Homo sapiens: one gene and its partners. The protein of the gene in region 2 purifies or fractionates together with the protein of the main gene of each other region. This does not show direct contact. Each region holds a gene or a part of one and is shown on either strand. Other genes may lie near its edges. The genes, in order: SAFB, CAPN13 and DIDO1.

The links.
Region 1: the proteins of CAPN13 (region 2) and SAFB purify together in Homo sapiens (affinity purification with mass spectrometry; one large-scale study listed by BioGRID and IntAct). This does not show direct contact.
Region 3: the proteins of CAPN13 (region 2) and DIDO1 purify together in Homo sapiens (affinity purification with mass spectrometry; one large-scale study listed by BioGRID and IntAct). This does not show direct contact.

What each region holds. Positions count from the first base shown.
Region 1 is NC_000019.10:5,661,002-5,664,650, forward strand, and holds part of SAFB (scaffold attachment factor B1), read left to right. Parts: intron 1-516; coding exon 517-807; intron 808-3,020; coding exon 3,021-3,158; intron 3,159-3,395; coding exon 3,396-3,438; intron 3,439-3,649. UniProt on the Homo sapiens protein: Binds to scaffold/matrix attachment region (S/MAR) DNA and forms a molecular assembly point to allow the formation of a 'transcriptosomal' complex (consisting of SR proteins and RNA polymerase II) coupling transcription and RNA processing.
Region 2 is NC_000002.12:30,744,863-30,748,511, reverse strand, and holds part of CAPN13 (calpain-13), read left to right. Parts: intron 1-91; coding exon of another isoform or gene 92-157; exon of another isoform or gene 158-2,110; intron 2,111-2,777; coding exon 2,778-2,789; intron 2,790-3,649.
Region 3 is NC_000020.11:62,891,889-62,895,537, reverse strand, and holds part of DIDO1 (death-inducer obliterator 1), read left to right. Parts: intron 1-372; coding exon 373-489; intron 490-623; coding exon 624-728; intron 729-989; coding exon 990-1,125; intron 1,126-1,343; coding exon 1,344-1,872; intron 1,873-2,575; coding exon 2,576-2,729; intron 2,730-3,461; coding exon 3,462-3,551; intron 3,552-3,649. UniProt on the Homo sapiens protein: Putative transcription factor, weakly pro-apoptotic when overexpressed. Tumor suppressor. Required for early embryonic stem cell development.

The DNA of each region.
Region 1 (3,649 bases), on a different chromosome or scaffold from region 2:
CTGCCTCACGGGCTCCAGTGATTTTCCTGCCTCAGCCTCCGGAGTAGCTGGGACTACAGGTGCGTGCGTGCCACCATGCCCAGCTAATTTTTGTATTTTTAGTAGAGACAAGAGTTTCACCATGTTGGCCAGGCTGGTCTCGATCTCTTGACCTCATGATCCACCCACCTCAGCCTCCCAAAGTGCTGGCATTACAGATGTGAGCCACCGCGCCCGGCCTGTTGCTTATTTTTGACTGGCTGTTTCCTGAAATCACTTGTCAAGCTCCAGGAAATGTTGGAGAAAGGAGGCCCAGTTCTGATCACACACACACAGCCTGGGCCTCACTCCTGAGATCTTCCTGGGCTGCTCCTGTGGGCCCGAGAAGCCTTCTTCCCGCTGGAGTGTACGGTTCTGCAGACCACGTAGTGGACGCACAGCCCTGGAGTCTGTGCGACCCAGCGTCTTACTTAAAGTCAGCCCTGGGACCTGGCTGGGGGTGTCTAGGTCCCCTTCTGCAGCTCTACTGTTGTGCAGCAGGGTGCGTGAACGCAGTGAACGCGAACAACGCATGCAGGCGCAGTGGGAGCGCGAGGAGCGTGAGCGGCTGGAGATTGCCCGAGAGAGGCTGGCCTTCCAGCGCCAGCGGCTGGAGCGGGAGCGCATGGAGCGGGAACGGCTGGAGCGCGAACGCATGCACGTGGAGCACGAGCGCAGGCGCGAGCAGGAGCGCATCCACCGTGAGCGCGAGGAGCTGAGGCGCCAGCAGGAACTGCGCTATGAGCAGGAGCGGCGGCCCGCGGTGCGGCGGCCCTACGACCTGGACCGGTAAGCAGATCCATGCTGCCCTTAGCACGTGGCGTTCAGAATCGTGTTAGGGACCTCACAGTCCAGTTAGCTTGAGATTTTTTTTTTTTTTTTTGAGACGGAGTCTTGCTTTGTCGCGGAGGCTGGAGTGCAGTGACCCGATCTTGGCTCACTGCAAGCTCTGCCTCCCGGGTTCACACCATTCTCCTGCCTCAGCCTCCCGAGTAGCTGGGACTACAGGCGTTTGCCACCTCTCCCGGCTAATTTTTTTGTATTTTCAGTAGAGACGGGGTTTCACTGTGTTAGCCAGGATGGTCTCTATCTCCTGACCTCGTGATCCACCTGCCTCGGCCTCCCAAAATGCTGGGATTACAGCTGTGAGCCACCGCGACCGGCCAGCTTGAGATCTTTCATTCAAAGGAAGCATAGGCCGGGTGCGCTAGTTCACGCCTGTAATCCTAACATTTTGGGAGGCCAGGGTGGGCGGATTGCCTTAGCTCAGGAGTTGAAGACCAGCCTGGCCAACATGGCAGAACCCCGTCTCTACTAAAATACAAAAAATTGGTCGTGGTGACAGGCGCCTGTAATCCCAGCTACTGGGGAGGTTGAGGCAGGAAAATCGCGTGTACCCAGGAGGCAGAGGTTGCAGTGAGCCAAGATCGTGCCACTGCACTCCAGCCTGGGCAATAGAGTGAGACTCGGTCTCAAAAAAAAAAAATTAGAGACAGGAGGCTGGATAAAGTAGTGCTGGTTAACTAACCAGGTTCAAGGGTGGCACAGACCTCCTGAGGAGGGAAGCTCAGGCACGTAGAGAGCGCCACACGTGCCCTACTGCACCTCCTTTAAGGCCCTTTCCTTTTTTTTTTTTTTTGAGATAGAGTCTCGCTCTGTTGCCCAGGCTGGAGTGCAATGGCGCGATCGCTGCTCACTGCAACCTCCACCTCCTGGGTTCAAGCGATTCTCCTGCCTCAGCCTCCCTAGTATTCGAGATTACAGGCACCCACCACCACACCCGGCTAATTTTTGTTTTTTTTAGTAGAGATGGGGTTTTGCCATGTTGGTCAGGCTGATCTCAAACTCCTGACCTCAGGTGATCCACCCACCTCAGACTCCCAAAGTGCTGGGATTACAGGCGTAAGCCACCACCCCCGGCCTTGTCCTGGCTTTTTAAATCCATTGTAATTTGTTTTTGCTTATTCTAGAAATAAAGAATTAAAAAAAAATTTTTTTTTGAGACGGAGTTTTGCTTTCGTTGCCCAGGCTGGAGTGCAATGGCGTGATCTCAGCTCACTGCAGCTTCCGCCTCCTGGGTTCAAGCAATTCTCCTGCTTCACTCTCCCAAGTAGCTAGGATTATAGGCATGTGCTACCACACCCGGCTAATTTTTTGCATTTTTAGTAGATACCGGGTTTCACCATGTTGGCCAGGCTGTCAAACTCCTGACCTCAGGTGATCCACCCACCTTGGCCTCCCAAAGTGCTGGGATTACAGGCATGAGCCACTACGCCCGGCAGTAAGATTAATTTTAATTTCTCAAACATACTGAAGAGGAGGTATGAACACAAAATGCTGAGCATGGCTGCTGTGAGGAGTCAGGTGTGTAATTCCAGCAGTGATTGTGTCAGGCTTTACACGTGCACTGCAACCTGGCAAAAATTGCTGTTTGTTGTTTCTTTCTATTGCATGGGTTGAAGAGGAGCCCAGGTCATATATACAATGCAACTTCTATAAAGGGCCTTGTAAACTGTTCTAGGATCTATTATGCTTTGGTACGAAATCCTTCTGATGACAGTTCATTATGGTCATCTGTGTATTGCAGCAGTACATGGCCAGGGCTGCTGGCAGGGCAGGAGGTCAGCTTTGGGGCGAGAGAGATGGCAGGTGCACTTGACAGAGCCCCTCGGGGTGGAGGCTCACGTGGTCTTCCTGAGCGGAGGTGGCTGTGTAGGGCTCCAGAAGCCATCTGCAGGCAGCCCATAGGACTGACTGCTTAACTAATGGCTCCCTCTTTGGAAAACCGAGGCCGCTTTTCATCAGGGGAGGTGGGTGCATGGGACAAAACAAAACAACTGTGCAGTCACTGGGGTCAAATCAGACCTTGCCTCCTATAGGAGAGAACACTCTTGGTGAAAGTCATCCTGGTTCTGTGAAGTGCTAGGGGCCAGCTCCCACAAAGGTGATAGATACATTTGGGGTGGGGGATCCCTCTATCTCTGTCTCATGTCCCCTCACAGGCGAGATGATGCCTATTGGCCGGAAGCCAAGCGGGCCGCCCTGGATGAGCGCTACCATTCTGACTTTAACCGCCAGGACCGCTTCCACGACTTTGACCACAGGGACCGCGGCCGCTACCCCGACCACTCGGTGGACAGGTCAGTTGGGCCCCTGCTGGGCGTGCGGGTTTTCTTTTTCCTGGCTCATTCTGACTGAGAACAAGGACTCCTGGGCTCTCTGAACCCACTCCGTTCATCAGATGTATGCTGAGTCAGACCCGCAGGTCTCCTGCCTTCAGTTAGGGAAATTATGCTTTTCATTGGGGGCCTGATGGTCCTCTCTTTGTGAACAAGCCTCTTCTTCCCCTTACGGTTTGATTTAAATTGCCTTTTCAGGAGAGAAGGTTCAAGGTCAATGATGGGAGAACGAGAAGGACAGGTAAGTCTGAAGCTACAGTGGTAGCCACAGAATTTCCCATAGAATGGGTTCTTTTCCCTTCAGCGTGCCTTCTTCCTGCCCTTTCTTTGAGCAAGAGGCAAAATGAGGAAAGAGAAAAGTAAAGCACTAGAAAAGTCTAGGTTTGTGGAATGGAAATTTGGGATTATTTGGGGTTAGTCTTGGCTGTCAGTCCAAACAGTTACTCTGAAGC
Region 2 (3,649 bases):
AAATAACCAAAACAGGTGGGAACAGCTGAGGATTATTTGCTGTGTAGCCATCTTGTCTGGCCCCTGCCCACCTCTGCACTGCATTTTCTAGCATCCCATCGACGTTGTGAGCTGTCCTTCCAAGAAGCATCTTTCAGCCCACCCCAGCCTGAGATAGTTTCCAGGGCTTTCAGACGAGAATTCCTGCTGACTCTGGTGCCTTCTAAGAGGACCCTCAGATTTTCCAGCTCTCACCTCTGGGAAGAAAAGGCTAAAGGCAGAAGGAGAGATTTGTGAAAGGCTGAGAAGGAACTGAGGCCCCTGGTCTGCCCAGCCAGGACTGACCAGGTCAAGCACCAAAGAGGCCTACTAGAAACATCTCAGCCAACTCTTCCTTCTTCTGAGCTAAGACAGAAGCCCACAGAAGGATCAGAGCTGCCCCGGCACACACGCAACTTCTGAGGCTCTGTTCACATGGGTGACCATGGGCCTTGTGTTGATTCACCCAAAGTCTTCACAGTTCAGGAACCCTACCAAGATTGTAACCACCCCATTTTTAAAATGACATCAAGCCCACTTTCCTACTTTTCTGCCAGAGATGTGTTACTTCTCACCATTCACCAATTTGCTGAAGGAACTCTCAGACCCAAGAGCTCCTCAGGCTTCCTGGAGATCCCAGCAGATCTTGCAAGATCCTGATTGAGTTAAATGTCAAAGAACAGTTCAGACCTGGACAACTCAAATGACACTGGTTGCTTTCACAGTTCAGCTGAGAAACAACAATGTACCTGCCAGCAGCCAGGCTCTCAGAAGGCTCCAGGGCTCAAATGGAGTTCCAGGGCTCCAGTGCTGACCTGCTGATATGATGATGCTCCAGCCCTGGCATGGGTCTGTGACTCCCCAGTTGCTGTGGGAGCACTGCTCTGCTTTATGTCCAACCAGACCTTGATGGGATATGAATAGGCAGGGAGAAGACAGGACAGTGAAAAGGATGAGGGTGGATGAGCCATTTCATCCTCACCTCCCTCAAAGTTCCTCCCCAAGGCCTGGACTTTCCACCTTCCTCCCAGCTCACCCTTGGCCTCCAGAGAAGTCGGCTAAGAGGTCTGTACACATGGGTGGGGCCCAGTGTCAACAATGGGAAATAATCAAGCCAACTAAGGAAGACATCACCTGGTGGTGACAGGGCTTGACTACAAAGCAAGCAGCACAGCTTCCCCGATTCCCAGCTCTGCTACTTAAACTGCTGAGCCTCAGTTTCTACACCCATAAAATAGGGAGCCCAGCATCGGCTTGCAGGATTATTGTGAATATCCAACACATTACATAAAAGTGCTTTGCAAACCGTAGAGAGGCTTACAATGGAACTGCATTCTCAGGTATTCCTTCTACTACGTGAAAAGACTGGAACATGGGTATCTCCCCATTCATAGGCACACAGACATTCCTACAAGCATCAGGGGTGGGAGTGCAAGAACGAATTCCCATCTATTTACAGTGGCCTGATAGAATAAAAGAAGTTGACTTCTCAGGGAAGCTCCCGATGTTAGGGAGCTTACATTTGCGCCAGGTTCTGTGCTATCTGTCAAAATCTCCCCCTTCCTTTCAGTGCGATCATCATTGCTGTGAAGAGTAACCACACCTTTCAGGGCTGACCAAAGAATACCTCCTCCTCTCAGACACCTCCTTTTCTGCCTCAGTTTCCTTCCTCTTGCTGTTCTCTGCAATTGAGTGGGTTTCATTTTTCACAACCTCACACAGAGCATGAGTGACCAGTCATCCCAGTTCACCTCTAGGTGTGCCAAGGAACAGGCAGGCCACACAAGGAAGAGGAACGTGTTCCACTTATAAATTTTTTGAGGTTATCCTCATTGATCCATTCCATAAAACTATCAGAGGAAATCTTGACACCCAGCAGATCACCAAATCTATCCACAAGCATGGGGAGATGTGTGGGCTGACATCCTCAGGCTGCAAGAGCCATGGCCTTGGAAAGGGCCGTAAGTTCTACCACGCTATTGGTGGTTCTCACCATGCAACTTGGAGAAGGTGCAATATTCTCCAGCTCTAATGTTATCACAGATATAAGTAACGTTTGTAAAATTCATACCTAATAAATTTAGAACAGTCATGTCTGCTTACAGCTTTATGTGTCTGTTAAAACTCGTCTGCAGATTGGTCCATGAATGCTTTGTTGAGTCATGAAAGTTAGAGTGCAATAGTGTTTGAAGACTCTAAGTGATGGTGTATCTTGTTTCTAATAAGAAAAATTTCTTTTGTCTTTACTTCATCTTGTTAGACAGTGATATGTCAGTGTTTAAAACATCCTTTGTGGTGGCCAGGCACAGTGGTTCACGCCTATAACCCCAGGATTTTGGAAGGCCAAGGCAGGCAGATCCTGAGGTCGGGAGTTCAAGACCAGCCTGACCAACACGGTGAAACCCCGTCTCTACTAAAAACAAAAATTAGCCAGGCATGGTGGCACACATCTCTAATCCCAGTTACTCAGAAGGCTTGGGCAGGAGAATTGCTTGAACCCAGGAGGCGGAGGTTGCAGTAAGCCGAGATTGCACCATTGCACTCCAGCCTGGGTGACAGAGCGAGACTCCATCTCAAAAAAAAAAAAAAAAAAAAAAAATGCTTTATGGCATAACAGATATAAAATAAATTCTTTAAAAGAGAGGAAGAAAAGGAGAAGGAATGCAGGGATGAAACCAATGAGCCAAGCTGTTCGGTTCTGCTTGCCTTTTTGTTTACGTCTGAGTTCCTAAATCTGCCTTTCTCCCTGTTTCCAACAGGCTGGCTCACAGGTATGGCTCAGCGTCGTCCTTGCCCTGCGCCTCTGCTGCTGTCTGCTGGTGGAGTGTTAGGCCACTTCCAACGCCCATGGCCTCCACGTGTTCAGTGGCTGCAAATTCAGTCTCGCTAAGTCTTACATCAGACACAGGCCTAGAATCCCCAAACAGGTTCACAAAGCAGGAGAATAGTTAGGTGTCCTGGTCTGAAGCTTCGACCCTTTGAGCTGTTCTCTTGCTAACATTCAAGTGAAACCATCCTCAGGCCCGTGGCCTCTGATAGAGAAGATTGATGGAGATGGTTCCTTTTTATTTAAGATGAGAGCAGCACTAAGGGGTACCTTGGAAAGATCTTTAGCCTCCTAAAGTAGTCAGTCCCCAAATCCTCCATAAGCAGGATGCATGCTCTCCAAATGCAGCTTCAAGGTACATCCTTGAGCCCGTCTTGCAAGAAACTGCCACCCTCCTAAACAGATCATCTGGCTCAGGATTGGTGAAAGGTGACTTGCCCATATGAGGAAGGATGGAGAAAGACAGGTGGAGTTTGGAATACCTATCCTCACAGGCACTCAGACCCACCTCTCTGCCCATGGCTGAGAGTGCTGAGCCACCAAGAGGGAGGTGCATCTGCCTGGGGACCACAGATGAAAGAGAGGAGCAAGATGTGGCCACAGACAACAAAGAGTGATTACAGCACCTCCAGGCCTTCCAGGGGAGCCTGCCTGTGACAGTGGTGGCCCAGCCACAGAGCGGGGGTCAGGATCTGACTCTGGTCCCTGACATCCCAGCTATGAAGTGGAGGGTTGGGATGGGCATTGAGAGAAGCACTCAGGTGCAAGGAGCCATCAGCGTCTCAGGTCCCAGAGCTGGAGAAC
Region 3 (3,649 bases), on a different chromosome or scaffold from region 2:
TGACGCTACCTTTTTGACTTGTGTCCACCTTGTGTACATAATTGTTTTTCCTGAGGTGTTGTGTGTTGTTTTTTTTTTAGCAGAGCCAGTGCAGCACAGGCCGTGAAACCCACTGTTGAACCTTATTACCTGTGCTCTCTGGGCTCCCATTTGCTCACAGCAGGGATATCCTGGGGCGCACTCTCATAAGGCCGTTTGGGGAGTTAGGTCACACCCTGCAGGGAGGGCTCTGCCCAGTGCCACACGCAAGTGGGCCCTGAGGGCCTTTGTCCTGTGCCCGCTAAACTTCTGGGCAGCTGTGTTTTCCAGAAGCTCTCTGTATTGACAGATATAGGAATATTATTTGAGTAAATGAAAAATACTTGTTTATAGGGACTCTTCCATCGTGTTCTGCGTGAGGAAATCTCTTTGGCGAAACTTGTGAGACTGAAGCCAGAAGAACTTGTATCTAAAGAGCTTTCCACGTGGAAAGAGAGGCCAGCGAGATCTGTGAGTGCTGAGGGGTACCTGCGGAGGCACCCAGGACTCGAGCTTAATAGAAATAAATTCATAGACGGCTGCATAAGCGATGCTTTCCTCCTAGAAAACAAGGCCTAAGCTCTGTTTCGTCTTTTTCATTTCAGGTGATGGAGTCCAGAACTAAACTGCACAATGAAAGCAAGAAGACGGCCCCCAGGCAGGAGGCCATCCCCGATCTGGAGGACTCTCCGCCAGTGTCGGATTCAGAGGTAAGCATTTGGGAGATTTTGTGTTCACCGAGAATAGACTAATCCATCCCAAATGTTTTGAGGTTATCTTAAATTATTGGGCAGGACCTGAGCTTACAGCAGGTGTATGTCATTGTGGCATTCCTCAGTCCTTGTATTAGATGGTCCTTTTTTCTCCCCCGTGGGTCTCAATCCCATGAGACTGCTTTTCTTGTGTGTGGTTAATTTGGAGCTGAGTTTGGAGAAGAAACGACCTCACTTTTTTTTCTTTTTCTTTTTTAGGAACAGCAAGAGTCAGCACGTGCTGTCCCTGAGAAGAGCACAGCGCCGCTTCTCGACGTCTTCAGCAGCATGTTGAAAGACACCACCAGTCAGCACCGCGCACACCTCTTCGATCTCAACTGTAAAATTTGCACAGGTGAGCACAGTGCAGGGGATGGAGCCTTGGAGCTGAGACTAAACTTGATTTTGTTAAAAATCACTGAACCTCCTAAAAGCAACCGCACGTAAGCTTAAACACGCAGAAGGGCCAGAATGATTTCCTGCCCTGCCTTTAGAGTATTGCTTTCGGCTTTGTGTGAGAAACACCAGTGTGCCGGCTGGGTTTCTCACAGAGCCTTTCCTCGCCTTCTTCAGGCCAGGTTCCCTCCGCAGAAGATGAGCCAGCTCCGAAAAAACAAAAATTGTCAGCTTCTGTTAAGAAAGAAGACTTAAAATCAAAGCATGACAGCTCTGCACCTGACCCAGCTCCGGATTCAGCTGATGAGGTGATGCCGGAGGCTGTGCCTGAAGTTGCCTCTGAGCCAGGCCTAGAAAGTGCTTCTCATCCAAATGTGGACAGAACGTATTTCCCTGGGCCTCCAGGAGATGGCCATCCCGAGCCCTCCCCGCTGGAAGACCTGTCCCCCTGCCCAGCCTCCTGTGGGAGCGGGGTGGTCACCACCGTCACAGTGTCCGGCCGGGACCCCAGGACCGCTCCAAGCAGTTCATGCACAGCCGTGGCCTCCGCAGCATCCCGCCCAGACAGCACCCACATGGTGGAAGCCAGACAGGATGTGCCGAAGCCTGTCTTGACTTCTGTGATGGTGCCCAAGTCCATACTAGCTAAGCCATCCTCATCTCCTGACCCAAGATACCTGTCAGTTCCTCCGTCACCAAATATCAGGTGCGTACTTCAGGTGTGGTCTGAACAAGCCAAACTTTTTTTTTAGATTAACGAAAGGAAAGATAACTGGTGATTAAATAGTTGAACTTGGAAATGTAACCTGAAATACAGCTTCACTCTTTCATCTTTTAAAAAGCCCCAGTTGTAGGGTGCCTTATTGTCCTTTTGGAAGTAGAGATCTTAGAAATTGACATTTAAATTTGTGCTCATCCAGTTTTGTTGCCTATTCACTTTATTTTTCTTTAACCAAAATGTCTGTATCATTTTAATTAAAGTAAGTAATTGGCAAAAGTAAGCTACCAAAAACGTAAAACTTGCAAGCGTTCACTTTTGCTTTTACATATAAAGTCTTTGTACTCTTGAAGCCGGGCACAGTGGCTCACACCTGTCATCCCAGCATGTGCTTGAGCCCAGGAGTTTGAAACCAGCCTGAGCAACATGGCAAAACTCCATCTCTACAAAAAAGACAAAAATTAGCTAGGTGTGGTAATGCACGCGTGTAGTCCCAGCTACTTGAAAGGCTGAGGTGGGAGGATCACCTGAGCCTGGGAGGCGGAGACTGCAGCCAGCTGTGTTGCACCACCGCACTCCAGCCTGCATGACAGAATGAGATCCTGTCTCAAAAAAAAAAAAGGCTTTCTACTTTTGAAATTCTCATTGCACAGAGAGACATTGACTTTTTTTTTATGGTTTTGTTTTACAGCACTTCAGAATCACGTTCCCCTCCAGAGGGAGACACGACCCTCTTTTTGTCTCGACTCAGCACCATTTGGAAAGGATTTATTAACATGCAGAGTGTGGCAAAATTTGTCACTAAGGCGTATCCTGTCTCTGGGTGTTTTGATTACCTCAGTGAGGTTAGAACCAAGAAAATGTGTGTGCGTGTGTGTGTCTTTCATAGGAGTTTCTAAACTAGAGTCAAACACATGACTTTCTCCCTTAATTCATGAGGTAGGAGAGAAACAGAAATGCCTGACACTCTTGCAACCGTCTGTCTGGATGCAGAAACGGCTCTAAATGCAAAGTGGCGATGGCCGTGATGAGTCCGCAGGTTCAGCAGTTTGGACAGGGTCGGAAATGTGAGCCTGCAGTCTGGCCTCTCAGTGATCGGTTTCGCTGGGGCACTGACCACATGGCTGTGCGCACAGCCACCGGCACAGCCAGGTGTTCGGAGCCTGCTTTACACACACCTGGCCACTTGCGGGGTGGCGCATATGACCCCGTGGCAGGCCTTTTAGTTTTCAGAATTAACCAGAAGACAGCACTAGCATTTATGACTTTAATGCAAGGAGTCACCCTGGCTCATAGTGAATCGTTACTCTCTGTGTATGTACGTAAAGACAGCATAGAAGTGTTGGGCAGTCATTTCTAAACATAATCTTGTCTGGCAGAAGGTTGGCATCACTCCCCCTTTGGATTTGGCCACTTGTCATCCTGGACTTAATGCATTTAATACAAGTGTGACTCTTTTCCTTGGAATAGCTGTAGTCTTCTTGAATCTTGGGTAGTGTGTGCCTTCACATGGCTGCATTCGTCTTTCTGTGACTACTACAGTTCAAAGTGATTTACGCAAAGTACTTTCTGTTTAGGATTTGCCTGACACAATTCACATTGGTGGGAGGATCGCACCGAAGACAGTTTGGGATTATGTTGGCAAACTCAAGTCTTCTGTGTCTAAGGTACCTGCTTATAGTATAAATTCTGCAACCATGGAAAATTGTGTTGATTTAAACACATCTTTTTTTAACCTCTCGTTTGGATGGGTTAACACTTAAAA